Regions from separate parts of the Homo sapiens genome. Here all the other regions are linked to region 1. The links come from fine-mapping of genetic effects on gene expression. A gene starts in region 1. Each other region holds a variant in brackets. All regions are shown on one strand. Distances are from middle to middle. Region 1 holds the start of CLDN9 (claudin 9). Region 2 holds the start of KREMEN2 (kringle containing transmembrane protein 2). Region 3 overlaps PDPK1 (3-phosphoinositide dependent protein kinase 1).

Evidence for each region.
Region 2: its variant is fine-mapped to the expression of CLDN9 in whole blood (TOPMed, PIP above 0.99).
Region 3: its variant is fine-mapped to the expression of CLDN9 in whole blood (GTEx, PIP 0.97).

The regions. Positions count from the first base shown.
Region 1 is chr16:3,008,135-3,018,214 of GRCh38, reverse strand. It overlaps CLDN9 (claudin 9), which reads right to left and starts at 5,292. Exons shown (of 1, transcript NM_020982.4): 1 at 3,710-5,292. The coding sequence starts at 4,852. The coding sequence ends at 4,199. It overlaps CLDN6 (claudin 6), which reads left to right and starts at 32. Exons shown (of 2, transcript NM_021195.5): 1 at 32-66; 2 at 2,173-3,503. The coding sequence starts at 2,194. The coding sequence ends at 2,856. RefSeq lists enhancers at 31-627, 628-1,224, 2,444-3,008, 5,608-6,433, 8,700-9,657 and 1 more and a silencer at 3,865-4,032.
Region 2 is chr16:2,956,291-2,966,370 of GRCh38, reverse strand. KREMEN2 (kringle containing transmembrane protein 2) reads right to left here and starts at 2,096. Exons shown (of 9, transcript NM_172229.3): 1 at 1,757-2,096; 2 at 1,338-1,512; 3 at 140-231; 4 at 1-46. The coding sequence starts at 1,850. RefSeq lists enhancers at 598-717, 320-1,279, 3,248-3,377, 2,864-3,861, 3,862-4,859 and 2 more and silencers at 1,078-1,447, 1,518-1,767, 2,298-2,377, 2,928-3,057, 3,088-3,167. The variant A/G (reference allele first, on the strand shown) is at 5,149.
Region 3 is chr16:2,601,820-2,611,899 of GRCh38, reverse strand. PDPK1 (3-phosphoinositide dependent protein kinase 1) reads right to left here. Exons shown (of 14, transcript NM_002613.5): 14 at 8,712-10,080. It also overlaps the pseudogene LOC652276. Among named protein-coding and RNA genes, the nearest start is that of FLJ42627, 32 kb to the left of the region's middle. RefSeq lists an enhancer at 7,989-8,328. The variant TGTCA/A (reference allele first, on the strand shown) is at 5,120.

The sequences.
Region 1 (10,080 bases):
TTAAGACCCCCGCCTCCGCCCCTGTCCCGACACTCGGCCTAGGAATTTCCCTTATCTCCTTCGCAGGTGAGTCCGGGGCTAGTGTGCGTGTTGGAGAGACGCCTCTTGGGGCCGGGTGCAGGGTGGTGGCGGCGTGGGTAGGGGTGCGTGCGAACTCGGGCTGCGGCCACCTGGATGGGCGAGTCCCTGAGGGGGTCGGCCGGTCCGCGCCCAAGCCTCCGAGGTGATAGGGTCCTTCGGGGCTCCCAAGGGTTAAACGCCCCTCCCCCCTCCCCAGGGACAAAGACTCCGAAACCCCTGGCGCCCCTCCCCCACCTGCCTTGCCTCTCGGGGCGGGGCGCCCCTCCCCCCTCCCCCTCACCTGGGGGAGCGGACCTTGCGGCCACTGCAGCTATAGAACCCCTCCAGGGCGCGCGGCTCCCAGGCTGGGGTGGTCGGGTGGGCCGGGGCGCCCTCGGACAGAGTCTTTTTCATGCAGTGCATGAAAAAGAAAGGGGCAGGGGCACACTCAGAGGGGAGAGGCCTGGGCGCCTATACCAGCGCGGCCCCGACCCTAACTCGGCCAGAGGCCTAAGGGCCGGACCTGAGCGCTGGGGCACCGTGCCCCAGCCAGTCTCCCCAAGGTGGTCTGCTCCGCCCAGGCCTGGGGCCCCCGGCTAATGAGTAGAGCCTGCCCTCCGACCGCTGCCGGCCGGGAAAAGTTTAGGTCCAAGCCGTACAATGAAAGTACTCTGGGCAGTGGGAGGCCACAGCCCGGCCCTAGTCAGAAGTGATTCCCTCCACGACCTCCAACACTGAGGGGACACAGGTGCAGGCCAGGTGGCGGTGGGAGAACTGGTGTTGAGGGGAGTCTAGCACGGCATTTTCGTCTAGAATTCATAGGAAAAGGCCCTCAGCCTTGAGGCTATGCTCTCCGGCGCCTAGGGCAGGTCAGAAGGGTGGGGCCAGGGAGTTATCCACTGGCTTTGGGGGAGGAACTGCTTTTAGATGGGGGATTAATGATGCTTTTCTTCATCTCTCCTGGTCCTGGTGTCTGCCAGCCTGGGGTGTGGAACCAAGTTGTGAGGGACATTGGGTGGTGGGAGGAAGCTTAGGATCTCCAATCTTAGTGTTGAAATTAACAAGTTTTGGTTGGGCACGGTGGCTCACACCTGTAATCCCAGCACTTTGGGAGGCTTGAGGCGGGCAGATCACCTGAGGTCAGGAGTTCGAGACCCGCCTGGCCAACTTGATGAAACCCTGTTTCTACTAAAAATACAAAAATTAAGACCAGGTGTGGTGGCTCATGCCTGTAATCCCAGCACTCTGGGAGGCTGAGGCGGGAGGATCACGAAGTCAGGAGATCGAGACCATCCTGGCTAACACAGTGAAACCCCGTCTCTACTAAAAATACAAAAAAATTAGCCGGGCGTGGTGGTGAGCGCCTGTAGTCCCAGCTACTCGGGAGGCTGAGGCAGGAGAATGGCGTGAACCGGGGAGGCAGAACTTGCAGTGAGCCGAGATCCCGCCACTGCACTCCAGGCTGGGCGACAGAGCGAGACTCCGTCTTAAAAAAAAAAAAAAAAAATTAGCCGGGCGTGGTGGTGTGCACCTGTAATCCCAGCTACTTGGGAGGCTGAGGCAGGAGAATCGCTTGAACCTGGGAGGCAGAGGTTGCAGTGAGTGGAGATGGCACCACTGCACTCTAGCCTGGGCCACAGAGCGAGACTCCTCGTCTCAAACAAACAAACAAAACAAATGGACAAGTTTTGAGCCTTAAACTCAGGGCTAGAATTGAACCATTCTACACGGAAACTGCTTGGAAATCGCACCGTCCTGTCATCCTGCTTTTTGCCGCCTTGCAGCCTGATCACTGGCTCTGGCCTTGGACTGTCATTGTATAGGTTTCATCCTGTTATCTTTCATTTGCATTCAGGATAGCCAGGGCAGGGCTGCTTGCACAGTCACTGTCATCAGCCAGTGCCTGTCACATAACTAGAAAGAATAATAAATGCTAAAGCATTAAGTGTCCATTTTGCCCACGAGAAGTGAGGCTCAGGGAGCATGTCTTGACTGAGTTCCAGGATGTGATGACCACTTTCCAGGGTGCATGCCCCTAGAGTCCTGTCCACATGTGGCCTGAGGTCTGGGCCTGCCAGGCCTCACCTTGTTGTGCTTCTGTCCCAAACACAGTGCAGCTCCTTCAACCTCGCCATGGCCTCTGCCGGAATGCAGATCCTGGGAGTCGTCCTGACACTGCTGGGCTGGGTGAATGGCCTGGTCTCCTGTGCCCTGCCCATGTGGAAGGTGACCGCTTTCATCGGCAACAGCATCGTGGTGGCCCAGGTGGTGTGGGAGGGCCTGTGGATGTCCTGCGTGGTGCAGAGCACCGGCCAGATGCAGTGCAAGGTGTACGACTCACTGCTGGCGCTGCCACAGGACCTGCAGGCTGCACGTGCCCTCTGTGTCATCGCCCTCCTTGTGGCCCTGTTCGGCTTGCTGGTCTACCTTGCTGGGGCCAAGTGTACCACCTGTGTGGAGGAGAAGGATTCCAAGGCCCGCCTGGTGCTCACCTCTGGGATTGTCTTTGTCATCTCAGGGGTCCTGACGCTAATCCCCGTGTGCTGGACGGCGCATGCCATCATCCGGGACTTCTATAACCCCCTGGTGGCTGAGGCCCAAAAGCGGGAGCTGGGGGCCTCCCTCTACTTGGGCTGGGCGGCCTCAGGCCTTTTGTTGCTGGGTGGGGGGTTGCTGTGCTGCACTTGCCCCTCGGGGGGGTCCCAGGGCCCCAGCCATTACATGGCCCGCTACTCAACATCTGCCCCTGCCATCTCTCGGGGGCCCTCTGAGTACCCTACCAAGAATTACGTCTGACGTGGAGGGGAATGGGGGCTCCGCTGGCGCTAGAGCCATCCAGAAGTGGCAGTGCCCAACAGCTTTGGGATGGGTTCGTACCTTTTGTTTCTGCCTCCTGCTATTTTTCTTTTGACTGAGGATATTTAAAATTCATTTGAAAACTGAGCCAAGGTGTTGACTCAGACTCTCACTTAGGCTCTGCTGTTTCTCACCCTTGGATGATGGAGCCAAAGAGGGGATGCTTTGAGATTCTGGATCTTGACATGCCCATCTTAGAAGCCAGTCAAGCTATGGAACTAATGCGGAGGCTGCTTGCTGTGCTGGCTTTGCAACAAGACAGACTGTCCCCAAGAGTTCCTGCTGCTGCTGGGGGCTGGGCTTCCCTAGATGTCACTGGACAGCTGCCCCCCATCCTACTCAGGTCTCTGGAGCTCCTCTCTTCACCCCTGGAAAAACAAATGATCTGTTAACAAAGGACTGCCCACCTCCGGAACTTCTGACCTCTGTTTCCTCCGTCCTGATAAGACGTCCACCCCCCAGGGCCAGGTCCCAGCTATGTAGACCCCCGCCCCCACCTCCAACACTGCACCCTTCTGCCCTGCCCCCCTCGTCTCACCCCCTTTACACTCACATTTTTATCAAATAAAGCATGTTTTGTTAGTGCATTTGGTGTTGCAGCGGGTTACTGAGTGCCCACCCTGGCTAGGGGAAGAGATGGGCATAAGTGAGTCACGATCCCCTCTCCCCGTGGCTTGAGTGAGCATACCCACCAGGCAGAACCTAGAGCCAGACCTTGGCCTGACAGCCACCAAGGGAGGCCACCTGGCTGTGCCTGCCCAGCCCCAGCGGCGGCGCACAGATTAGAGGGAGCCCAGTTACAAATGCTCTTTATTTCCAACTCGAGGGTGGGGATGTTGGGGAGAGGGAGGTGATGGGCAGGCCCTCCCTGACAACTCCAGGGTTGGGAGGGCATGGTCTGCTCCCTGGTTTTGGAGCCAACGAGCTGCTGCTGTTTTGGTGAGGCCAGGGTTCCTGGGGCAGGGGAGGGCTCAGAAGAGAAGGAAGGCCAGCCAGTGTCCTGGGCAACGGAAGGAAACAATTACTGGGGAGGTGGGGGCAGGCCAGGGTTCCCAACACCTCTAGGCTGCCCAACTTGGGGGAGAACATCAAAGGGGACCCCACTGAGAAGAGCTCAGCCAGGCCAGCTGACCCAGCCCTGCAGCCAGGTGTAGCTTGGGCTTTTGGAAAGTGGGTTTTCCTGGGGAAGGAGGTTGTGATGGAGCAGGGCATCTGGTCATCAGGCCAAGGTCGAAAGGGCGGGGCAGTGGGGAGCAGTGGGCTCCCAGGGGAAACCTCCGCCTCACACGTAGTCCCTCTTGTCCAGTCCAGATGCACCCGAGCGGGAGGGGATGGAGTAGCCCAGCCGAGGTCCGCGGGGCCGCTCGACCTGGGGCGGGGGGCACGTGCAGCAGAGGAGCCCCCCGCCCAGCATAAGCAGTGCAGCCGCCGCCCAGCCCAGGTAGAGGGAGGCCCCCAGCTCCCGCTTGAGGGCCTCAGCCACCAGGGGGTTGTAGAAGTCCTGGATGATGGCGTGCGCCGTCCAGCACACAGGGATGAGCACCAGGATGCCGGCGAGGAGGAGGATGACCCCCGCGGTGAGCACGATACGGGCCTTGGCACCTTCGTCCTCCACACACGTGGTACACTGGGCACCTGTGATGGCCACCAGGAGGCCAAGCAGGGCCAGCAGGAGGGCAATGACACAGAGGGCACGTGCGGCCTGCAGGTCCTGCGGCAGAGCCAGCAGTGAGTCGTACACCTTGCACTGCATCTGGCCCGTGCTCTGCACCACGCAGGACATCCACAGGCCCTCCCACACCACCTGGGCCACCACGATGCTGTTGCCGATGAAGGCGGTCACCTTCCACAGGGGCAGGGCGCAGGACACCAGGGTCCCCAGCCAGCCCAGCACAGCCAGGGTCATGCCCAGCAGTTCTAAGCCGGTCGAAGCCATCTGGCCCCTCGGTTAGGTCTTCTCAGCCCCAGGCGGCCTAGGTGACTCAGAGGGTGTGTCTGGTGTGCTGGGTGGGTGTCTCTGTGTCCAGCAGGAGGGGGAAGGCTTGTTGGTGTCCCCAAGCCAGGCCAGTCCTCAGTTCCATGAAAGGCGCCTCTTGAAAGGCGCCTCCTCTCCGTGCCTCTTGCAGGTGTTTCTGGTCCTCGCGGAGCACAAAGCAGACTCGTAGTCCCGCTCGGCTGAGTGGTGGGTGTCACCTCGAGGGGCCTCCGCCCATCGGATGCCCTGAGGGTGCTGCTGCTCTTACCACCCCGCTGTCACACCTGGGCTGAGCTCGCACAGGCCCTCCAGACGCACTGCCAGGCTGAGGACAGCCACGTCTCCTGCCGGCTGGCGCAGGTTCCCACTGAGCGACTCTGACAGTGCCACCTGGGGACTCTGCGGGCTCTCGGCTGCAGGCGGGGTTTTAAGGCCCAGGCAGGGGAGGAGCAGAGTGAAGTGCAGGGAGGCCGGGATAGGGGAGACCTGAGCCACGGGGAGGGTGCGGGGCTGGGGGTTCGTGGGCAGCGGATGGATGAGGGGCCTGGGGGCCAGCGGGGGATGCTGCGGCTGAGTGGGGACAGGGGAGGAAAAGCGTCCGTAGCATCTGTGCATGTGGGAACCAAGGGTAAAGGAGGGGAAGATGGAGGACAAGCTGAGGAAGAAGAGACGGATCGGGGGTCAAAAAAGTAACAGGCTCAGGACAGAAACACACACAGGGGGCGTCGGCTTGCCTTCCTGAGCCTCCTCCTTCCGCAGCCCCTCCCCAGCTGCCTCTGCTCTCCCCCAGCCGAGTTTCGTGATGCAAACATGCCCCAGCTCCCCGAGTATCGCACACTCCCGCCCGCCTGGGACTCTCTGGAATCTGATCCATCCCCCGTCTCAGCCCAGTGGCCCCGCTAGCTCCCGGGGGAAGGTCCCCGCCTGCACTGTTCCCCAGACGACAGGTGCCTGGCGCCCAGCTCAGGTGGCATCGCCCTGGCAACGGCCTAGAAAACTACCCCCCACTTCAACCTCAGCTCAGGTGCGCTCTTGCCACCCCTGCTGCTGAAACCGAGGCTGAGCTGAGCTGCCTAAGATCTCCAGAGGCCAGAGGATGAGGGGCCTGTTGTGGAGGTTGGGGGGCACTCAGGAAGGGGGATGGAGGCGGGACGGGCTGGGGCTGGAACCCAGGGTGGGGCACAGCCCAGGACCCGGTTATGTTCCATGGGTGGGTGAGTGAGTGGCCAGTCAGGCCTCCCGGGCCAAAACACCCCAGAGGTGGGCACGGGGGTTAAGTCCAGGGACTCAAGTGTCCCCAAGACCTGCCTTCCAGTTTGCAGGAAAGCCTTACCTCCGGAAAAACCCCCTCAGAGCCTGTGATTCCACTCATGGGGACAGCCTGGGAGTCCCACTGACCAAAGCTCAAATCCTGACCCCTACCTGGGACAGGTCATGGAAGGTCGAGGTCCTTAACCTCCTTTGGTCAAAGACCCACTTGAGAAACCCCGTGGGACTCACAGAACATGCACCCACAAACATGTGCCCCTCATTTGTGGGGGAGGGTTCATGAACTCCTTCAAGCCCCTGCCTGGGTGCTAAGAACCTCTGAGGATTGTTGTCTGAAAAAGGGGTGTGACGGCCAGGTGCGGTGGCTCACGCCTGTAATCCCAACACTTTGGGAGGCCAAGGTGGGCGATTCACGAGGTCAGGAGTTCGAGACCAGCCTGGCCAACATGGTGAAACCCCGTCTCTACTAAAAATACAAAAAATTAGATATCCCAGCACTTTGGGAGGCCGAAGCAGGTAAATCGGAAGGTTAAGAGATCGAGACCATCCTGGCCAACATGGTGAAACCCCGTCTCTACTAAAAATACAAAAATTAGCTGGGCGTGGTGGCACAAGCCTCTAGTCCCAGCCACTCGCCACTCTGGAGGCTGAGGCAAGAGAATCACTTGAAACCGGGAGGTAGAGGTTGCAGTGAGCCAAGATCGTACCACTCCACTCCACTCCAGCCTGGCGACAGAGAGAGACTCCTCAAAAAAAAAAAAAAAAAAAATTAGCTGGGCGTGGTGGCGGGTGCCTGTAATCCCAGCTACTTGGGAGGCTGAGGCAGAAGAATCGCTTGAACCGGAGGCAGAGGTTGCAGTGAGCCGAGATCGCACCACTGCATTCCAGCCTGGGTGACAGTGGGAGACTCTGTCTCAAAAAAAAAAAAAAAAAAAAAGGAAAAGGGATGTGAGGAACATTGTCTCCATTCATACACTTTCCAGGGAGGTACAGAGGATCCTCAGAGTGGGCCCTCACCTGGGACTGCCTCTCACCTGCCTGGTGCTGGGAGGGCTGGGGTGTGCTGGAGCCCACTGGCCAGTGCGGGCAGGGCTGGAGGTGCCCACCACACACATCTGGTGGCTGCACCACTTCACGGCATTGCCTTCGGGGAGCCAGTGGCCAGGCACACCCCTGCTCAGTGCCCCTCACCTAGTGGGTGGGACATTGTGTATAAAGGGCTCTAACCTCAAGGAGCGGTCAGGGTTCAAACCTAGGGGTATGAGCATCGCTTCTGCGAAAGGGTTTTAGCATCTTTTGGGTCCGGGCACTGAGGCTCACGCCTGTAATCCCAGCGCTTAAGAGGCCAAGGTGGGAGGATTGCTTAAGGCCAGGAGCTTGAGACCCACCTGGGCAACACAGTGAGACCCCATTTCTAAAATAAAAAAAAAATATATATATATATATATACACAAAAATTAGCTGAGTTAGGTGGTTCCTGTCTGTAGTCCCAGCTACTCGGGAGGCTGAGGTAGGAGGATCTCTTGAGCCTAGGAGTTAGAGTCTGCAGTGAGCTATGATTATGCCACCGCACTCCATCCTAGGTGAGACCCTGTCTCTTAAAAAAAATGATACTTTTGGAAGAGAGATTTATACTTTCCTTCAGATTTGCAAAGGGGCCTTGACCCAAAACAGCTTAAGATCCTCCCCTGCAAACACAGAGACAGGCCAGCGCCAATCAGCTGGTCTGTAAGGTAAACAGAAGCCTGGCCTCCTCTTCACCACCCCCTGGGCCTCTCCACTGAGGGGGGCTCCTCCGGTACGAGGGGGGCTGACCTGGTGGCCCCACAGAGTCTGGAAGATGGGGGGGTGATACAGAGGCTGGAAAATGGCCATCAGTGGACTCAGGGAATCTTGTGGCAGGTTTGTCCAGCTCACCCAGCCCCTGGGGCTCAGATTTCACAGGGTTGGGGTGGGGAGAGCAGAGATTGCAGACGGAGGCAAGCCGGTCAGCGGGCTCCCTCGCAGCCTTCCAGGGGCCTCCAGGAATCCAGCCACACAGGTTTGGGCAGCTGTCAGGAGGCAGCAGCAAGCCTGCCTCCCTGGAAGTCCCCCCACCCAGCAGCCCCAACCCAGGGGCTATTCTCTTCCCTGGGCCGGAACAAGTCCTCCTTGTCCTAGGGCCTAAGGTGATCGGCTCATCCCACTTTTTTGAGGGACATTCCCAGCTTGAATATTGGGTCCTCCAGGGAAACCGGGACGGCTGGTCCACTTGCTGTCGGGCCCTGCCTCGGTGACTCACCGGTTCCACATTCAGCTCTAAACCCCTACGTTGTAGCCCAGTGGCGGGCTGCACACATCCAGTGAGCGCTGTGCCCGGAAAGGGCATAAGAGGACCCCAGGGGTTTTTTTGTTTGTGTTTTGAGACGGAGTTTTGCGCTTGTTGCCCAGGCTGGAGTGCAATGGCACAATCTCGGCTTACTGCAACCTCTGCCTCCTGGGTTCAAGCTGTTCTCCTGCCTCAGCCTCTCAAGTAGCTGAGATTACAGGCATGCGCCACCACACCCGGCTATTTTTTTTCTTTTTTTGTATTTAGCAGAGACGGGGTTTCACCATGTTGGTCTGGCTGGTCTGCGAACTCCTGATCTCAGGTGATCCGCCTGCCTCAGCCTTCCAAAGTGCTGGGATTACAGGCAAGCGCCACCGCACTTGCTCGGGGACCCCAGGTTTGTGTTTTGTTTTGTTTTGTTTTGTTTTTTTGAGACGGAATCTCGCTCTGTTGCCCAGGCTGGAGTGCAGTGATGTGATCTCGGCTCACTGCGACCTCTGCCCGCTGGATTCAAGCGATTCTCCTGCCTCAGCCTCCCGAGTAGCTGGAACTACAGACATGTGCCAACACACCCGGCTAATTTTTGTATTTTTATTAGAGACGGGGTTTCACCATATTGGCCAGGCTGGTCTCGAACTCCTGATCTCGTGATCTGCCTGCCTCGGCCTCCCAAACTGCTAGGATTAGAGGTGTGAGCCACCGCATCCAGCCGACCCCAGGTTTTTAAGACCCCAATTCCTCTTTGGCCCAACATCTCCACACCGGAGCAAGAAGGAAAGCAAGCCCACACTCCAGGGACTAGCCAGCAGAGTGGGTGGAGGCTGCTCAGCAAATGCGCACACCCCCACCTCAGTGACCAACCCACTGGACTTGCCTTCACAGTGGCCCTGTGCGGCTTCAGGCTCCTCCCACCCCAAGTCTCTAAGATAAAACACAGTATCTCCCCAAGCCCCTTGGGGAGAGTAAAAGTGGAGAAACATCTTGGAGCCTAGGAGAGGCTGGAAGAGGGTGGTTGGGGAGCTGCCCATGGTGGGAGGATTCCCAGGACACATGGGTAGCAATTAGCCTGTTGTCCTCAGCCCTCACTAGACCTAGGTTGGGAGGTCCTAGACCCTCTCCTAGGCCCCCGTGCACCTGGATTCAGTTGGATCTTGGGAAAGGAAGGGTTAAGGTTGGGGCCTAATCAGGGACTGGAATGCCATTGATATGGAAAAGTGGGGGCCCCTTGGTGTGGTTACCATCTCAATGGCACTTTAACACCTCCAGCGAAGTCCCCTCCCCCATCCACCACGTCTGGGAAAAGAGGTGGGGGAGGGGAACCTTCCCCACTGTACTACCCTGGGAGGAAAGGAAGCCGGCTCTCCACCAGTCCCTTCCTGGAGCGACAAAATGGACCTCGTTTTTGTTCCGTCTAGGAGGAAAGAGGGGCAGGGAGGCTCAGGTGGGCAGAAGAAACCAGAGATCAGCTTAGATAGGGTCGAAGTGGGTTAACCCGCGCCTCTTAGAGGGGGAAGTGTGGCCTGACCACAAAGGAAAGGAAGGAAGTTACCAGGAGCTACCATGCGCCAGGAACAGTGCGGGGGTGGGTGTGGGGGCAGCACACTAAGAACCC
Region 2 (10,080 bases), 52 kb after region 1:
GCTGGGGGTGCCCCTGAGTCCACAAAGCATCCCAGGTAGCCTGGCACTGAGGGGGCAGAGTCAGACTTCCGTGACTCCGAAAACAACCCTCCTCCCAGATGCAGCAGCGTTCCCACCTCTGTCCAGCCGCGCTACTCACTGTGACAGGAGGGGATGTCGCAGTAGCGCCAGTAGATGCCCTCCTCTGTCTCAGCCACGTAGCACCACGGCTGCACGTCACCGTCTGGGTTACTGCGGGTGGGAGGGAGGTGGTGGGGCTCCCACCACCCCAAGAATAGCAAACCCAGGCCCGGCCCCGCAGCCTATGCTCAAAGTGGCCTTCAAGGCTCTGTGCCTGTGAGCGGCTGTGCTGCCTGCTGTACACCCACAAATTCCAGTTTTGTCTACGCAGAACTCTGCCTGATGAAGGAACTGGACGTCGACTTCCGAGTGGACAGCGGGAAGTCATTAAAGGGGACTTGAGAGCTGTTTTTAGGCTTCAGCTGTTGCTAGACTTGACTCCATATATGAGGACTTTGAGGCCATCTGTATTCTTCACCCCCACCCGGCATGGGCCTCAGCCACTTCCGTCCCTCAAACCCCACTTTTTTTTTTTTTTTTTGAGACGAGTCTCGCTCTGTCACCCAGGCTAGAGTGCATTGGCGCGATCTCTGCTCACTGCAAGCTCCGCCTCCCGGGTTCAAGCGATTCTCCTGCCTCAGCCTCCTGAGTAGCTGGGATTACAGGCGCCCGCCACCATGCCCCGCTAATTTTTTGTATTTTTAGTAGAAATGGGGTTTCACCATGGTAGCCAGGCTGGTCTCGAACTCCTGACCTCAGATGATCCGCCTGCCTTGGCCTCCCAAAGTGCTGGGATTACAGGCTGAGCCACCGCGCCTGGCCTCCAACCCCACTTAAAAGCAGAAGTGAGCTCCTGAGCTTTGCGGCTCTCCTCCCGCTGGGTCCATCCTGCCTCAGACCGTAGCTGTGGCTCTGAACCCCAAAATAAGTTGTATGACAAGAGCCCCACTCTGACAAGGCCCCGCCCATTCGGCCCCCGCTCTGACCAGGCCCCGCCCATACGGGTCCTTTGAGTGCCCAGGTCCGTTTCTCTCCTGGCCCTGAACTGGAGCTCTGCAGAAATTGTTCACCTGAGGAGGATCCCTTTTGCGCCAGGGTTCCGCGCGCCCCGCCCCGCCCCGCCCCGCCCCTCATTCTGGCCCCGCCCCCAGGTTCTCCAGGAGGCTGGGCTGCCAGTCCACGGCAGACCTCCACCCCGCCCGCACGGAGGCCCCGCTTCGGGCCATCCCTGCAATGGTGAGCCCAGCCTCGCCCCCAGCGCAGGCCCCGCCCCTCACCGGCAGAAGTTGTGCGCGCCCAGCCCCCAGCGGCCGTGGGGGTCGCTGGCGCTGCTGTAGCTGTGTTGCTGCGTCTGGTCCCAGAAGAGGCACGGGCGGCCCGCCCCGCGCGGGCCAGTGCGGTTCTGGTGGCCGCGGTAGTCAGCCCCATTCACCTGGAAGCATTCGGACAGGCCTGCACGGCAAAGGCAGGGCCTGGGGAGGTCCGGACCCACGCCGGGCATCCTCGCGCCCCTACGCCACCTCCCGCCTGGGTCCCCAGCCAGCGACCCCGCACCCGCCCCTGCAGGAGCCCTCGGGCTGCTCAGCTGCTCCGGCCACCTGCTCTGTCCCCCTCCCTAGCCTTGGGGGCCTGGCCCTGGGGGCGGAGGCCGAGGAAGGGGTGGTGAACACGGCCCGACAGCCGTGCGGGGACTTACCTGGACTGTGCAGGCTCCCAGCCGAGGCCCCACGCGGCTGCAGCAGCGGGAGGAAGAGGAGAAAGAGGAAGCCCTGCAGGGCTTGTGTCCCCATCGCTCTCAACCAAGGATAGGTCACCCTCGCCCGGACACGGCCCGGGCTGCCCCCGGGGTCGCTTCGGGGTCTCCCAGGAGACCTAGGGGGCGTTGTCCTCTGACAGTCTCCCCTCGTCCGACTCTGAGCCGCGCTTTCCGTCTGGGGTGGGTAAATCTCTCCTGGGGGTCTTTGCCTCCCAGGGCCTCTGCCCCTAGAGGCGTCTCTCTGTCCCTGTCCCTACCCGGGTCTCTCCGGGGGGAATCTGGCCGGGGGCGTTCTCAGTCTCTGTCTCAGCGAGCTCTGGGCGGTGCCTCAGCCTCTACGCCCGCCCCCTCCCACTGAGCCTAGCTCTCGGCGTCTCCCTCGCCCAGGTCTCCAACGGGCTGACTCCTGCCCGCCTCGCATCCCTCCGTGGGTCCCTCCCCCTGGGTCTCTCCCTCCCCCCATGGGAGGCCGGGAAGCCCCGCCCAGCACTGGAGCGGAGGCAGCAGGTCCAGACGCCTCCCACGCCCGTTCCCCCGACCCCGGGCGTCCAGCGCTTCCCGGCCCCCTCTCCCTCAGGTCGGTGCCGGTTCAAGTGGGAAGGTGTGGAGGGGGACAGGCGGGGCAAGCGGACGGAAGGCCCTTAAAATGGGAGATACAGAACCCCCTCACGTGGTCGCACGCGCCCCAGGACACCCGGAATGTCCGAGTTACAAGCGCCCTCCTCCCAGTGCACGCACGCGCTCGCACTCTCTCCCATTCATTGCCAGGCGCTCACGCGCACACTTTCTTCGGATCCGCACGCCCCTCCCGCCCCTGGTCCAGATGCCGCTGGCCTGACGGAGGAAGCTCCACTCCCTGCCCCCGCGCCCACGAGACAGGCGGGAGTCGTGGACGCTCAGTCCGGGACAGGCAGGGGCAGCTGGTGTCTGGGGAGAAAGGCAGCTGCGCCCCAGGTCCCAGTCTGTCCCCTCCTCCTCCCCCTGCCCCGCCCTTCCCTGGGACCCCCAGCCCAGACTCTCCCGAGCCTTCACACTGCAGTGGAATTCCCCCAGCCGTGCCCCCCACCTGGCGGGGGAGGGGGAGGGGAGCAGGCCCAGGCAGGCGTGGGGGGAAATTCCCCGCCCCCTCCCCCTGGGCCCGACTCCTCCGAGTCCTCTGATCTCCCAGCGCCACCCGCCCGCTGCCCCCAGGGCTTGGGGGGAGGCCAGCGCAGGTGCGTGGGAGGGCGGAGGCGGGGGCCGGGGGAAGGAACTGGTGGGGGCCGGGCGCCCAGAGCGGCCCCGCCCCGCCCAGACCTCTTTGCCCCTCAGTCCAGCCTGCCCAGCCCGCACCAGGCCCTCGCCAAGCTGTCGAGCCCAGGCCGACCAGTCCCCGCCCTGCAGCCCCCACACCGTCTCTGCCCCGGTGTCGATGGAGAAGAAAGATGGGGTTCAGGGAGGTTCTGTCAGGCCCAGGCACCCACTGCGGTGCTGGGACCCGCGAGGATCTTCCAGCTGGCGCCTCACGCGAGTGTGCTCTGGAGGAGGGGCGTGGAGCCGAGGTGGGGGCATTTGAAGGAGATGGACTTGCTGAGACTCTAGGCCAGGGTCCTGGTCGCCTCCTCCGGGAGCCCTCTCAGAGGCCAGGCTGGCCCGGCTCACTGAGCCCTGAGCTGGGGCCTCCAGCACCCACGGGCTCCCTGGAACCCAACTGCGCTTCCCGACGAGGGAGCATCCGGGACCACCTGTCTGCCCGGTTTCTCTTGGCGGGGGCTCAGTGAAGTCCTCCCGGGCTCCAGTCCACAGAGGATGTCCTAGGGGCAGGCCTGCACAATGGCGGTGCGTGGGGAGCTTCACCCCCACAGCCACAGCCATCTGAGGATGGGGCAAGGTGGCGACAGGGACAATTAAGGACTCTGTGCGGAAAGGGGGCCGGCTTGGGACGCTGGTGGAGGAATCAGCCCCTTCCCTTGAGAGAGTAGGGTCTGAAAGAACCGTCCCTCTGTCCCTGGCACTGTGACACCCGGTTCGGTTGGCCCAGGCCTGTCTCCTCCAGAGGGGGCAGGGGGTGAGAGGAAGTGGGTGCTCAGTGCTGAGGCTGGGGCACTGAGATGGAGTGGGGTGGAGTATCCCTGCGGCAAACTTCAGTCTCAGGTCACTCACGGAAACTTCCAGAACTAAGAAGCCCACCCCCCACCACTTCCCCAGCATTTGGCACTCAGGGCTCTGCAAGCAGCGGCATGTCTGCCCTCCTGACGCCCTGCGAGAGGGGACAGGCTCATCTCCCCATTCTGCAGATGGGGCGCAGAGGTGGTAACTGGGTGACTCGTGGGCGTCACCAGCTATTAAGCGTTGGAACTGGGCTTCAAGCTCCGCCTGGTCTGATCCAGGGGCTGGGCGCTGATTCATGCCTCCATGTCGCTTCCAGGGTCTCTGATTCTTCAGGGACCTCTGGGCACACAGAGATACTCTCTCACATGCTCTGAGGGGCTCCTCACCCCTCGAATGTCGTTGCCGCCAGCTGACACTTTGGAAGCAGGATCTCCAGCAGCCCATTTCACAGACAGGGAGACTGAGGCCAGACTGGGGCAGGGGTCGGCCTGGGGTCCCTAGGGCCTGACAGGCTTGGCATGTCATCTCTGAGGGAAGCAGATGCACAGGTGCAGATTGGCCACATGGGGGCGGCAGAGAGAAAGGAGCCAAAGAGGTAGGTGCAGAAGCAACCCAGGGGCCAGCCTGGCATTTCTCTCCTATGGGACATGGAACACAGGATTTGCCCTGCCCAAGTAGGGAGAAGGTGAGAAGTTGGGGGACCTGGGCAAGAGGAGGGACCAGGCCACTTTGCCCCAGTCAGCCCCCCAGGAAGGGGAGGAGCAGGCTCAGCCCTGCCCTTCTTAAGGCGGTGCAGGGTGGCCGTGTTTGAGCCCAGCCCTTTCCTGCCGGGAGCTCTGGGTCAGGGCCAGACCCGGTGCAGTCAGGACGCCTGGGTTCCACCTGGGGCTGCTCAGCTGCCCTTGGTCTTCTTGCTTTTTTTTTTTTTTTTTTTGAGACGGAGTCTTGCTCTGTCACCCAGGCTGGAACGCAGTGGCGCGATCTTGGCTCACTGCAACCTCTGCTTCCTGGGTTCAAGCGATTCTCCTGCCTTAGCCTCCCGAATAGCTGGGATTGCAGGTGGGTGCCACCACACCTGGTTAATTTTGGTATTTTTAGTAGAGACGGGGTTTTGCCATGTTGGCCAGGCTGGTCTCGAACTCATGACCTCAGGTGATCTGCCCCCCCACTCGGCCTACGAAAGTGCTAGGATTACAGGTGGGCGCCGCCACGCCTGGCTAATTTTTGAATTTTTAGTAGAG[A/G]CTTTTTTTTTTTTCTTTTTTTAGACAGAGTCGCTGTCTTGTCGCCCCGGCTGGCGTGCATTGGCGCCATCTCGGCTCACTGCAATCTTGAGATGGGGTTTTGCCATGTTGGCCAGGTTGTTCTGGAACTCCTGACCTCAGGTGATCTGCCTCCCTCGGACTCCCATAGTGCTGGGATTACAAGCGTGAGCCACCTTGCCCGGCCCTTCCTTCCTTTTTCTCATCTCTCTGGTGGTGACAGTGTTCCACCTGGGGCCCACTCCTCATGGCAGAGGCACATCAGGGCCACCAAGGCAAAAGGAAGCCCCAGAAATCTGTGGGCAGGGGGTCCCCCTGGAGGCCGCTGGGGAGGCCCTGGGAGAGATGAACCAGGCCAGGCCTCACCTCCACACTCTGTCTTCAGGAGGGCGGTGGGTCAGTGGACCACCTCTCCTGGGTGACAGCTGGATGAGGAATGGGTGGGGTAGGGGTTCGTGGGCCCCTCTGAGACCCTGAGAGCAGCCCTGGGGGATCTTTCGGGGCCTTCCCAGGGGTTCAGAAAGAGGCCCCTGCTGAGGGGCTGCAAGTCCCAGTTGTGACCTCACCCATCCTCAGCAGCAATGATACTTTGTCCTGTCCCCCTTCCTGGGACAGCTGTGTTCCTCCTGCCTGCTTCCTAGCTGCACTCCCTACCTGTGTTTACTGATCCCAGTTCCTCCAGCTCCTGCACAAACACTAGACTCATTTCCCCACTTCCCCTACATGAGGTGTGGCTAGCGGGGGAATAGCAGGAGTGGCATCTCTCAGTACTCAAAGTTCGGAGCCTGGACCAGCGCCATTATTACCGGGGAGCTTGTTAGAAATGTGGCTCTTGGGCCGGGCACGGCGGCTCACGCCCGTAATCCCAGCACTTTGGGAGGCTGAGGCAGGCGGATCACCTAAGGTTGGGAGTTCAAGACCAGCCTGACCAACATGGAGAAACCGCATCTCTACTGAAAATACAAAATTAGCCGGACGTGGGGGCTCATGCCTGTAATCCCAGCTACTTAAGAGGCTGAGGCATGAGAATCGCTTGAACCCAGGAGGCAGAGGTTGCGGTGAGCCGAGATCGTGCCACTGCACTCCAGCCTGGGCAACAAGAGCGAAACTCCGTCTCAAAGATGGAAGGAAGGAAGGAAGGAAGGAAGGAAGGAAGGAAGGTAGGTAGGTAGGTAGGTAGGTTGGTTGGTTGGTTCATTCTTGGTTGGGTGCAGTGGCTCACACCTGTAATCCCAGCACTTTGGGAGGCCGAGGTGGGCAGATCATGAGGTCAGGAGTTTGAGACCAGCCTGGCCAACATGGTGAAACCCCGTCTCTACTAAAAATACAAACAGCTGGGTATGGTGGTGCATGCCTGTAATCCCAGCTACTCGGGAGGCTGAGGCAGGAGAATCTTTTGAACCCGGCAGGCAGAGGTTGCAGTGAGCCGAGATGGCACCATTGCATTCTACCCTGGGTGACGACTGAAACTCCATGTCAAAAAAACAAAAATAAAAATAAACAAACAAATAAATAGAGACAGAGTCTACCGATGTTGCCCAGGATGGTCTGGAACTCCTGAGCTCGAGTGATCCACCACCTTGGCCTCCCAAAGTGCTAGGATGACAGGTGTGAGCCACACCATATCGGGCTAGAACACTTTCACAGGATCCCTGGAAAGTCCCTGCCAGGTCTGGCCTGCCACAGCCTCAGCTTCTCTCTTCTCCATTCACCAACTGAGCGGAGGGGATACCTTGGGGAGGGTGGAGGGAGCTGGATCCCCGAGTGACCTGGTGGAAGGTGCCTGCCAACCGGAAGTCTCGGCACAAATCTCTGAATGACTGAAAAACAAACATCTGTGGGTTAAGTCACCAAGACCGCGGGCTTGCCGGGTACGGCACCTGGCCCAGTCCCTCCTCCCTTGCCCATCCCACTCTTTTCTTCTGTGTTGCCTTCCTTGGTTGTGGAAGCCTCACTCTCACTGCCTTCATCTTCACACGGTGTTCTTCATGTGTGCAGCTCTGTGTCCAAATTCCACCCCTGCCCTGTCACCTTTTATTTCTTTTCTTTTTTTTTTATTTTGAGATAGGGTCTTGCTCTGTCGCCCAGGCTGGAATGCAGTGGTGTGATCATGGCTCACTGCAGCCTCAGTCTCCTGGCCTCAAGCAATTCTCTCACCTCAGCCTTCCAAGTAGCCAGGACCACAGGGGCGTGCTGCCACATTCAGCTAATTTTTTTTTTTTTTTTTTTTGAGATGTAGAATCGCTCTGTCGCCCAGGCTGGAATGCAGTGGCATGATCTCGGCTCACTGCGACCTCCGCCTCCCAGGTTCAAACACTTCTCTGCCTCAGCCTCAGCCTCCCGAGTAGCTGGGATTACAGACATGTGCCACCACACCCGGCTAATTTTTGTATATTTAGTAGGGACAGGGTTTCACCATCTTGGCCAGGCTGGTCTTGAACTCCTGACCTTGTGATCCACCTGCCTCGGCCTCCCAAAGTGCTGGGATTACAGGTGTGAGCCACCGCGCCCGGCCAGCTTATTTATTTATTTTTGAGACGGAATTTCGCTCTTGTTGGCCAGTCTGGAGTGCAATGGCGTGATCTTCGCTCACTGCAACCTCTACCTCTTGGGTTCAAGAGATTCTCCTGCCTCAGTCTCCTGAGTAGCTGGAATTACAGGCGTCTACCACCACGCCCGGCTACTTTTCTGTATTTTTAGTAGAGATAGGGTTTTACCATATTGGCCAGGCCGGTCTCGAACTCCTGACCTCAGGTGATCCACCCACCTCAGCCTCCCAGAGTTCTGGGATTACAGGCATGAGCCACCACGCCTGGCCTTATTTTTTTATTTTATTCAATTAATTAATTTATTTTTGAGACGGAGTCTTGCACTATGGCCCAGGCTGGAGCGCAGTGGTGTGATCTGGGCTCACTGCAACCTCCGCCTCCCGGGTTCAAGCGGTTATCGTGCCTCAGCCTCCAAAGTTTCTGGGATCACAGGCATCTACCACCACGCCCAGCTAATTTTTTGTAGTTTTAGTAGAGATGGTGTTTCACTATGTTGGGCAGGCTGGTCTCAAACTCCTGACCTTGTGATCCACCCACCTCGTCCTCCCAAAGTGCTGGGATTACAGGCTTGAGCCACTGTGCCCGGCCCCTATTTTTTTATTTTAAATGGGGTTTCGCTATGTTGCCCAGGCTGGTCTTGAACTGCTGGGCTCAAGCGATCCGCCTGCCTCAGCCTCCCAAAGTGCTGGGATTACAGGCGTGAGCCACCACGCCTGGCCTCCACATGTGAATTTTATTTATTTATTTTTACGTATATATATATTTTTGAGACAGATTCTCGCTCTGTCACCCGGGCTGAAGGGCAATGGTGCCATCTGGGCTCACTACAACCTCCGCCTCCTGGGTTCAAGTGATTCTCCTGCCTCAGCCTCCCGAGAAGGTGGGATCACAGGTACCCGCCACCACATCCGGCTAGTTTTTGTATTTTTAGTAGAGACGGGGTTTCGCCATGTTGGCCAGGCTGGTCTCGAACTCCCAACCTCAAGTCATCCACTTGCCTTGGCCTCCCAAAGTGCTGGCATTACAGGCGTGAGCCACTGCACCTGGCCTCAACATGTAAATTTTAGAGGACACAACTTAACGTGTAACATCTCTTAACAATCTCTGGTCTCTTTTACACCCTGGCTGGAACCTCCTGCTCTTGCCTGGACAACTGCTCACCCGATTGACGTCTAACTCCTCACACTCACCCTTTGCCATCCTTGCCAGCAACCAGTCTTTTCTCTGGTAATTAAACACTGAACTATCAGATACATGACTGGAGAGTCATTAAACATTAAATCAGATTGTGTCTCTGGTCCGATAAGAATCCTCTGGAAACTGGCCAGGCTCAGGTGCTCACGCCTGTAACCCCAGCACTTTGGGAGGCCGAGGTGGGTGGATCACTTGAGGTCAGGAGTTCGAGACCAGCCTGGCCAACATGGTGAAACACCATCTCTACTAAAAATGCGAAAATTAGCTAGACGTGGTGACACACGCCTGTAATCCCATCTACTTAAGAGGCTGAGGCAAAAGAATCCCTTGACCCTGGGAGGCGGAGGTTTCAGTGAGCCAAGATCGCGCCACTGCACTCCAGGCTGGGTGAGGGAGCAGGGGCAAAAAAAAAAAAGAATGCTCTGGAAGCTCTCAGAACACTTCAAGGTGCTGCCTGGGCTGGCTCATGCCTCCCTCCGTGACCTCACCCCCACCACATTCCCCACACCCCAGCATGATCTCCTCCTGGTTTTCCAGGTCCGGTCCTTTCTCCGCTCTGGGCTGCTGTACTGCGGTTCCCTCAGCCTGATGTGCTTCTCCCTACATCTTCACTTAATAAATTTGTGCTGCGGAGCTCAGAGCTGCCTCCTCTGAGAAGCATTCCTTGATCTCTACCCCTCCAGCCTGCTGTCTGCCCCGCCCGCCATTGCCTCCTTAGCTGCCTGGTTCCTCTGCGCCTCCCCCACCACCTGAGGAATGGGTGACAGTGGGACACAGCAGGGGGCGAGATGACCAAAGCCAGGCTTATTTCGGTGGGATGGGGTCACTTGCTGCCGGCTTGTCCTAGATGCTCTGGTCACCAGCGTGGGCAGAGCCAGGGAGGGGCCCTGATTTGGAAACTCAGAGTTCAACTCAGCCCTTGAGCTCCTGGGTGGATTTGAAGGGGTTTTCCCATGGGGATGCTGGATGACTGGCTGTCACCCCAGTGGCTTGGCCTGCAGGACCCGCCCTTCTCAGATGAGGACCCCAAGGCTGGCAGGGCCCGGGAGTGCCCAGGGCTGGCTGGCTTCATTTGGGCCCCAGGCCAGTCGGCTCGGAATGGCTGCTGGGGCGCTAGCGGCCTTGGCCTCCAAAATGTCTGCAAGAGTTGCTGGAAGCTGCCCTGCCCTGG
Region 3 (10,080 bases), 410 kb after region 1:
CAGGCCACCCCAAGCCTCAGTTTCTTTACGAGCAAAAGGTGGGGGAGACCAGCTCGTGTAGCTCGGGGCCGCCATGAGTGCCAGGGCACCCAACCTGTGGCAGGACCTGGGCACTGAGCCGTGACCTCTAGGCCAAGACAACCCACCATGCGCTTCTCGGGCCCTGGGCCGATGCAAGAGGAGAAGAAACTGTACTGGGTGCCCCCAGACAACCAGGGCAGCCCCAGCCCTGCAACTGGAAGGACGGAGGCAGGAGGGAAGGAGGGCGGGCCGAGGACGGCCATCAGTTAAAACCACACAGCAGGACAGAGGAACAGGCCTGAGGACCCAGCAGCGTACTGGGTGTACTGGCAGTGGGCTTGGTGCTGCTCTCACCACTGTGCTCTTTTGAGGCTTTCAGTGGCTGATTTCCACATTCACAGTAAGTGCTGGGGTCTGAAACCAACACTCTTCAATCCTACCAGGGTTCAGGTCTCGCTGAGGCCTGACTCGCATCCATATACGTGCAGGGTGTCGGTGCTTTGAGCTCGGGTGAGCCACGTGCTCCAGATTGGCCTAGTGCGTGCAGGGTCTACTCATGGCACCAGCCCAGGCCCAGACAGTGCCAAGCTCAGGCGCAAGGGCCTTGGCAGCTCACTGCTTGTGTCAGGGATGTGGCTCAATAGCCTCCACCCTGATGCAGAAACAAAAATATGGAACATGGGGAGTACAAAAACATAAAAAATTCAGGATATACTCCTAGGCTCACGGAGACAAAGGGAGCAAGGTCACCTCACGGATGTTCAGAACAGTGCCTGAGCCGACCCAGGTAAGGCCCCTGTGCTGCCCACAAGGCCATCAGCGGTACCTGCCCAAGGAGGGAAAGATGCCCCAGCCCGGCCATGCCTCTAAGATGGGTGAGGAGAGGTGGCCAGGAAGCCAGCGGGATGCTGCGGGCCGGGCGTGGGGGTGCTCTTCTTCCTGCGGGCCCGGCGTGAGGGTGCTCTTCTTCCCACGGGCGGGGAGTGGGGTTGCTCTTCTTCACGCGGGTGGGGTGTGGGGGTGCTCTTCCTCTTCTTCCTGGCTTTCCCGTGTGTCCCACGGCTTACACAACCAGCACAGGCTGCGCTCGATTCTCGCAAAGGTTCGTGGTGGTTTTTTTTTTTGTAAGACAGCCCTAATTGGCTGGGTGTGGTGGCTCACACCTGTAATCCCAGCACTTTGGGAGGCCAAGGTGGGCGGATCACGAGGTCAGGAGTTTGAGACTGGCCTGGCCAACATGGTGAAACCATCTCTACTAAAAATATAAAACTTAGCTGTGTGTGGTGGTGCATGCCTGTAATCCCAGCTACTCAGGAGACTGAAGGAGGAGACTCGCTTGAACCCAGGTGGCAGAGGTTGTGGTGAGCCAAGATTGTGCCATTGTACTCCAGCTTGGGCAACAAGAACAAAACTCCGTCTGAAAAAAAAAAGCCATAATTAAGACTTTTCTTAGCAAGTCATCTCCCTCATCTTCCCCGCACCTTGCTGAACCGGCATCTGACCTACTTGGGGCCGGGCCCAAGCTGGTATTGGGTGGGCCCAGCAGGCTGGGTTGACCCACCCATCTCCAGGGGTCACAGCCTTCAGCCGGAGCCACCCACCGCAGGCCAGGCAGGCCGGTTTCCAAACCATAGAGGAGAAGAGGGATCCTGGCCACACCAAGAGCAGGAGCCAAGGTTGTCTCCTGGAGAGGAGCGCACGGGAGGCAGCGCCAAGCCAGGGCACACACAGTCTCAGGAGGTAGAAGAAGATCCCACAGACAGAGCTGGCTGCCCCCTCCCCAAGTCCACAGGACAAACACAGAGGGAAGTCTGTTTAGGAGAGCAGCACTCAGAGAAGGCTGGTGAGAAGCCTGCCCACTCTGCTCATGTCACCAGACTCCGGCTGCAGCCCTCAACCCTCCATGCTGTCACCCAGCAAGCAAAGCACCAGAGACAACATGGGGGCACCCCAGCCCCTGAGGAACAGGTCCCTAATGCAACCACCAGCCTTGAAAATGGCAGTGAAGGGCTGGGCTTGGTGGCTCACGCCTGTAATCTCAGCACTTTGGGAGGCCGAGGCGGGCGGATTATCTGAGGTCAGGAGTTGAAGACCAGCCTGACCAACATGGTGAAACCCTGTCTCTACTAAAAATACACAAATTAGCCAGGCTTGGTGGAGGGTGCCTCTAATCCCAGCTACTAGGGAGGCTGAGGCAGGACAATCACTTGAACCTGACAGCCCCGTTGCAGTGAGCCAAAATTGTGCATTACACTCCAGCCTGGGCGATCCAGTGAGCCTCTGTCTCAAAAAAAAAAAAAACGGCAGTGAGGAATGAGGGTGGAGACTGCCAGGCTCTCACGCCAGATTCTGAACCCAACATAACCCTGCTGCTGCCCAACCCTCCCGCAGCTCCCAGAGCTCTGCAAAGAGGGTCGGCCCTGCGGCTCTCAGTCATTCCCGGTGCTCGGAGACACGTGCCACCAGAGGGGAACGAAATCAAGAGGGTGCAGTGCCCTGAGCCAATCCAGGAGATAAACTCTGTCAAATTGCCCCACAGAAATCTAGACGCGAAGGCATAGAATTTCCTGTGCACCAACATCTGCAATCAACCTAATTAGAAATACTTAGTTTTTACTCTGAAATTATCCATTTCAAGTGACTCTGTTTCAATTTCGCACACAAAACCTTCACCTCTACTCTCTCTTCTGTTTTGTTTTATGCAGCTGTGGCATATCTTTGGCCCACAAGAGGACTTTGATGTCACCAATTACTAATGGGGAAACTGAGGCCAGAGACCAAGGAGGCTTGTCCAAGGCAGCCAGATTCGGAGAGCAGGGTGGGGCCCCTGTGCCCTGGTCGCCAGGCCTGCTGCCTCCCCACCACCCTTCCCTTCCATTGCTTCTCGGCCTCACCCAGCATAGAAACTGGAATTTGGGAGGTCCCTGCCCCACACATGACTCAAAGCTTAGTGAGAAGCAGACGTGTGTGGACTCACGACCTGGCCCCTCACAAGAGGTCCTGCGGCTTCTCGGGGAAGAAACATGCTTCAGGTGAACCACGGGGGGTCTTGCCAAGCCGAGGTCGCTGCAGAGAGTCCTGCTCTGCTCGGCAGGAACTGGAGCCCTCTCAGGAGCAGGGGTGTCAGGTTTCTTGCAAGAAAACTCGGGGGCTGCCCAGGAAGCCCTGCCCTCCCCACAGTGCAGGGTCCAGTCCCCAGAGGTGGAGACCCACTCAGCGGGGGCCTGTGCTGCTAGGGTCAGCCAGAGCTCTGGGTGGCAGCAGGGGGACTGGCAGGGCGAGCCACTCCTGGCCATACATGCTGCCTTCAGGGACCTCCGGTGCATCACCCGAGGCTGACAGGGCTGAGTGTGGCCAGAGGTCGACATTAACAGAAATTAAGTGTGGCTGCGGGAGGGGAAAAGCGTTCTTAGCATATCCTTCCTAAAAGTAAAGTACACTCACACCTGTAATCCCAGCACTTTGGGAGGCCGAGGTGGGCAGATCACCGGAGGTCAGGAGTTCGAGACCAGCCTGGCCAACATGGAGAAACCCCATCTCTACAGAATATATAAAAATCAGCCAGACATGATGGCTTGTGCCTGTAATCCCAGTTACTTGGGAGGCTGAGGCAAGAGAATCTCTTGAACCCAGGTGGCAGAGGTTGCAGTGAGCCCAGATAGAGGCGGGATAGAGTGAGACTCTGTCTCAAATATTTAAAAACAAAAACCAAGTACAGGCCGGGTGCAGTGGCTCATGCCTGTAATCCCAGCACTTTGGGAGGCCAAGACAGGTGGATCAGGAGGTCAGGAGATCGAGACCATCCTGGTTAACACGGTGAAACCCCGTCTCTACTAAAAATACACAAAGATTAGCCGGGCGTGGTAGCGGGTGCCTGTAGTCCCAGCTACTCAGGAGGCTGAGGCAGGAGAATGATGTCAACCCGGGAGGTGGAGCTTGCAGTGAGCTAAGATCGCGCCACTGCACTCCAGCCTGGGCAACAGAGTGAGACGCCGTCTCAAAAAAAAAACAAGTACAAACACGAAGACCTCCAGGCACAGCCTCTCCTGACTGCACTGACCTGGTGCCAGGCATGGGGCAGGGGCACCACATTTGTCATCTTCAGGGGAGGACGTCACCCTTACCTTACAGAGGAAGAAACTACAGCTCACAGGGGACGGGAAATCACCCGAAGTCACAAGGCAGGCCCGGGATGGGCACAGTCTCTCACCAGTGCTGGCTACACAGTACATCATCTGCCATCTCCACTAGACGTGATCCCCACTTCTCTTGCCAAGCGGCTTCAAAGACGGTACTCTAGCCCACACCCCATCACTGGGCCCTGTCTGAACAATTCCTTCCATAACTTTCCACCCCCGAGGTCTTGCCAACACCCAGTACACTGTTAGAGGCACCCTGACTGCCCCACCCCTCAAAGACCCATCTGATGCCACCACATCTGGAACCCTCAAGCCGGGACAACGGCCCTGTTCAAAGGGCAAAAGTTCACGTGCAGTTTTCTCCAAGGCTGCCTCAGCTGCAGGAACCGAAGCCTCCCCAAATTCTCCTCCATCTGAGTGGTTTCCAACCATAAAGCAGTAGTATTTCCTGTTTCCTTTTAACTCCTCAAGTATCTCCACACTAAAGCAGGGGCTGCTTTAGCTGGAAACAACAAACTCGACTTTGTTTTCAACAATGCCTATGGGCCGGGGACCATGCAATACAAGAGACCTAACCAAAATGAATCGAGTCTTTGGGAAGCCGTATTCCACCTGGCCTGCCCTCGAAGACACCAAGGAAGAGAAAGATGACAGAACAGCAGATGAGCAGATGCTGAAATGCTCACCACAGCCACAGTCCTGCTGGAGGAAGTCCCAGGAGGAAGTGAGAATTCACACCGGGCTGTCTAGAAAGAGAACTTTGTGGCAGCAGGTCGGCCCTTGGAACAGCAGAGTAAGGGCTTGGGAGCGTGGAGTATGGCGGGTGGTGGGTCCCAAGCTGGGCTCTGAGGACTTGGTTGGGGGCAGTCACAGCCCAGAAGCTTAGATGTGGGGCCAGAGGGCAATCAAGCCAGCCCCTTGATGTGCGTGGCTTTCACCACCCTCCCTAACAACCCGTC[TGTCA/A]AGAGCTCCCCTCCCTACCAGATAGGATGCTTTAGCAGGGTGCTCTCCCAACCTCTCAGGCACCCAAAGCTTCTATGGTTTCTTGGGAACTCCTCCCCCTTAAATCTCCCCACCCAACCCCTCTCCAGACCCCCACACTCTGCAAGCCCAGGTGCTCACTCCACACAAGTCTAATAATCCAGGCAGGGACTCTTCCACCAGATCCATGCTTAAGTCCAACTCGAGGAATATTCTTTCCTTAATCTCAACTCTGAGGTCAGGCCTTGGAGATCTTTACAGGTGAATCAACATCCTGTTTGTCTTCCAACGTGTCATTAATGGCCTCCCACTCCTGACACCCCTTCCCCCCCTCCTCAGATTCCTCAGTCAGCATTTAATTAGGAGGAATCTCCTGGGACATTCTTTCATCAGAGCCACTGGAGACAAAACTAAGATGAAGCATTTTACACATTTCCTCATTTGATGAAAAACACCGGAAAACACTTTAGTAACGTGACTAATATGAATTAGCACTACACTTTTGGCAAATTATCTGTCACTAAAACTAACCTTATTTACTCCAATTATTGTTTTCTCCTTTTCTTTTTTCTTTTTTTTTGAGACAGAGTCTCGATCTGTCGCCCATGCTGGAGTGCAGTGGCGCAACCTCAGCCCACTGTAACCTCTGCCTCCCGGTTCAAGTGGTTCTCCTGCCTCAGCCTCCCGAGTAGCTGGGAGTACAGGCACGCGCCACCATGCCCAGCTAATTTTTTTGTATTTTTAGTAGAGACGGGGTTTTGCCATGCTGGCCAGGCTGCTCTCAAACTCCTGACCTCAGGTGATTCACGCGCCTCGGCCTCCCAAAGTGCTGGGATTACAGGCGTGAGCCACCTTGCCCGGCCCCTACTCCAATTATTGTATGAGACAGAGACGACTGTATCTGCTACTTTACCTTCATGTTCTGAATTTGAGTTTTACCATTTGGAAATCAAACCTGGTTAAATGGATGATAATGAAAAGAGCAAGTATAACACAGATATATTCAGAAAGATTAATTACCCCTCGCCCAAAGAATTGATTCCTACCGTAAAGCATTTTTTTGTTTGTTTGAGACAGAGTCTTGCTCTGTCATCCAAGCTAGAGTGCAGTGGTGTGATCTTGACTCACTGCAAGCTCCGCCTCCCGGGTTCTAGCGATTCTTCTGCCTCAGCCTCCAGAGCAGCTGGGACTACAGGCGCCCGCCACCGCGCGCGGCTCATTTTTTGTATTTTTAGTAGAGACAGGGTTTCATCGTGTTAGCCAGGATGGTCTCGATCTCCTGACCTCGTGATCCGCCTGCCTCAGCCTCCCAAAGTGCTGGGATTACACACGTGAGCCACCGCGCCCACCTTTTTGTATTTTTAGTAGAGACCGGGCATCACCATATTGGCCCGGTTGGTTTTGAACGAGATCCACCTGCCTGGGCCTCCCAAAGTGTTGGGATTACAGGCATGAGCCACCGCGCCCGGCCCATAATTTTTAACAAAGTCTTAAGGAACAGTAAAGCAAAGGGATCAACCACCTTAACTGTGCTATAGTTCATCAACTGGGAATCAAGTGCTCCAGTGCTGAATAGACAACCATTGCCTCAAAGAACCCAATGGACAAGAGCAATTTAAACTCTAATTTCATATACAAAACAGGAATGCTTGAGTAGAAAGGCAAGGGAGTGACCACTAAGCCCTGTTATTTAAAAAGAAAAACCAAACAGTAAAACACACACCCACACTTATAAAAGGAAAATCACAGCTAACAAACGCCTATTTCTATCCTGGGGATGACTGTCATTTCCTGGGAGGTCAATTCTCTGAGTAGAGGGCTTGGTCAAATGAGCAATGGAAACAGTTGGAAGTTGTGGGGAGGCACAGGAGGGTTGGCATCTCAAACCCTCATTTCCACCCACAAGGCTGCCTTAGCAGTAACTCCAGATTCTCATTTCCTGATCACGGTCATGCCATGCTGAGAATGGTCTCAGTCAGGCTTCTCAAACTTGAAGAGGGATCCGAACCTTTCTGGGAAGCCTCCTGCATGGCAAATGTTGGCTGCCAAGGCACAAAGCCAAGCGCAGTCATGTAAGCTCAACTGAAAGACCCCGCAAAGTTAGTATAAGGCTTGTGAACTGCCTTGAATAAATATAGGTAACAACTTCTTCAAACAGGCTTTTTTGTGAGTTTCAATCCTGCACAACTCCCAAGACACGGTTCCTCGGCTCCACAACTCTTGATAAATAAAGGTAGCAAAAGGTTTCTATTACCATCTACCCAACAGCATGAGCATTTCGCTTGATGAAAGACAAGCTGCAAACTAACCTGGAAATTCCTGTCCTTTTGCGAAGACAGTGGGAAAACTAAGCCAATTAGAAAGCAGATTGAAAGATTCCTTACCTGGCCCTTCCTGGACATCCCTAAAGCAACCCTTAATATGAGCAAAATCCCCTTCGAAAAATCACAGTATATACTATGGACGCATCTTCTAAGAGGTGCTGAGTGGGTGCTGCGTGCTGTGGATGGAAAGGATGGAGCGCCAACTCTCTAAATACAAGTCACCAGGGAAAAAAAGGGCCGCCCATATCAACCCCCACGTCAGCGTTAATTCAAACGTCCAGAATGTGAAACGCCAAGGGTTCTGTCTCCAGAGCCAGCAAGTACCCTGGGACAGAGAAGAGAAGGCGTTCACACACCCTGGGCAAAAGAACCTAGTGAGAAAAAGAAAGTAGAATCACAGCAAAGTCCGGGGTCTCGGAAGCCTCCTCCACCAAAGAGCAAAGAGGGCGAGGAAGAGACACCCCCAAGGTGAAGCGACTCAGGATTCTCAAAGGCAGTGGACACCAGGGCGCCATCCTTGCCCTCCCCTCCCAGGATAGGGGATCGGGGCAAGCTGGGGATGAGCTGGCGACAAGGGAGTGTTGGGCTCGAAGCCCGAGGAGAGTCGCCCTCTCCTGCTGAGCTCTCCTCGGCGTGGAGCAGGGCGTGTGCGGCGGCCACAGGCCGAAATGGCCCAGGCCCTTTCGACTGGCCCACGTGGTCCTCACCTTGTCCGAGTCCGGGTCGGGGTCGGCCTGGCTCAAGAGGTACAGGAAGGATTTCGGGTCCTGACACAGCGGCGTCTGCCCAGTGGTGAGGAAGTAGGTGCCGCCGCTGTAGAGCCGGACCCACTTGGACCTGCTGCTGGGGCGCTGGGCCAGGACGCTGAGCCCCGCGCTTTAAGGGAGGCACAAGAAGCCACCCCAACCCCGCCCCGAGCCTGCCACGGGCCAGCGGCAGGAGCTCGCAGTGATTCCCCGCCATGATCCCAGCAAGCCCCACCACACCTCCGCTTCACCGGAAGAGTCCGGCTTTTAATATCGCCCTTTGCGTTCTGTCCCGCCCACTGGTCAGCCCTTGTAGAACACCCGCCGGTCACATGGCAGGCGGAAGTTCCATCCGGGAAAAGCAGCCGGCTGGTCCCACTTCCGGAGGGAGTGAAACCGAGCTTGGGGCGCCAACGCTAGCGGGCAATGGCAGACACCCGCCCCCAACCGCGCCCCCACTCCGTGGCGGGGTCAAAGGAAGAGCCACGCCAGCAAACCTCTACACTCTACATGCTTTTTATTACAAGACTACTGACCATACGAGGAAAATTCATCATCTGGTAACTACACCTAAAGCACAAGTATTTGGAAAAAAAAAAAGGATAAACAGATTCATTAAATTATATGATTAAATCACTGACCCAATAGAAAATTTATATAATAAAGCCAGAAAAAAAGTTGTAAAATATAGTTTACAATAATTATTCACATTCAAGGCTGTACATCAATACATACAACAACGTGGCCCCGAACATGAATTCAATTCAAATAATTCATATATTAGAATTTAAATAACACAGACTGAACTAGAGGCCAACAATAGCCAGCAAATAACCTTATATAAGAATAAAAATACAAAAGTGTATATCCTAGTATCATTGCATTTGTTTTCATAAGTTCTTTTAATTTTTGCTTTGTCTGTACATCACAGTTACAGCTACAGACCAGGTAGAGAATATTACGCATGTTCTGCTTGCCACCCACCTGAAAGACGTACTAGTCATTTATCCTATTTTATGTTGTGAAGGAACAGCTACAGCAGCTCTAAATACTGTAACAATTTAATTTTGCCAACATCCAACTTACTTACAGTCGTAATAGAGGCTTTTACCAGCACAATGACCCCTATTCGTAGTCATTCTGCCAGGTGGTTAGGCTATGTGGGTTACACAGCTTAAAAAAGGTCTGCCTTTTGTAAAAAGTTCTCTGTACATAGTTTGGTGTTTCTTCATATGGAAGAAATGAGTTACGGGGAAAATTCAGGTACACACGTAGGCTCGTTCAGTTGCTCACCACAGCCATCTCAACAGATGAAAGTGCTCTTTGTTGGAAACAGCTTCCTCCTCACACCAGTTCTCCACAGGCAGCCTCATCTACAACCCTGCAATTTTGGGCCAGAAGTGGTGGCCCCTCAGAGGCTCTGAAGTGCCTCCAGCCCCGATTCAGGCACTTGCCACGTGTGCTGCGTAAGAAGGGACCCCCACCCAGTGAGTCAACATAGGCTCATGTCAAGTTTGAAAATAACTGGGGAAAAGTGTATGACAACATCTTCCAGAACAAAGTACCTTCACCGTATTCTCACAGCAGCTGCGATCTCTGAAGTCTCAGCAGTGACCACCCCGGGTCTGTCAACCAGCCAGGCAAGGGGGGGCCCTCAGGCTTCAGAGGGCAAGAAACCAAATTCCGTGCAATTTGGCCATAATCTCTGGTAGAGTGAAGCAGCACTGAACACGGTGCCTAGAAAAACCTCCTGCACGTTCCCCTGCACAATCAATGGACCCCAACTACAGTGGAGAAATGAAGAATCCAACCAAATTTGGGTGGTCTGGACTTGCTGCCAGCCAGGCAATCTGCAACACTGTGGGCAGG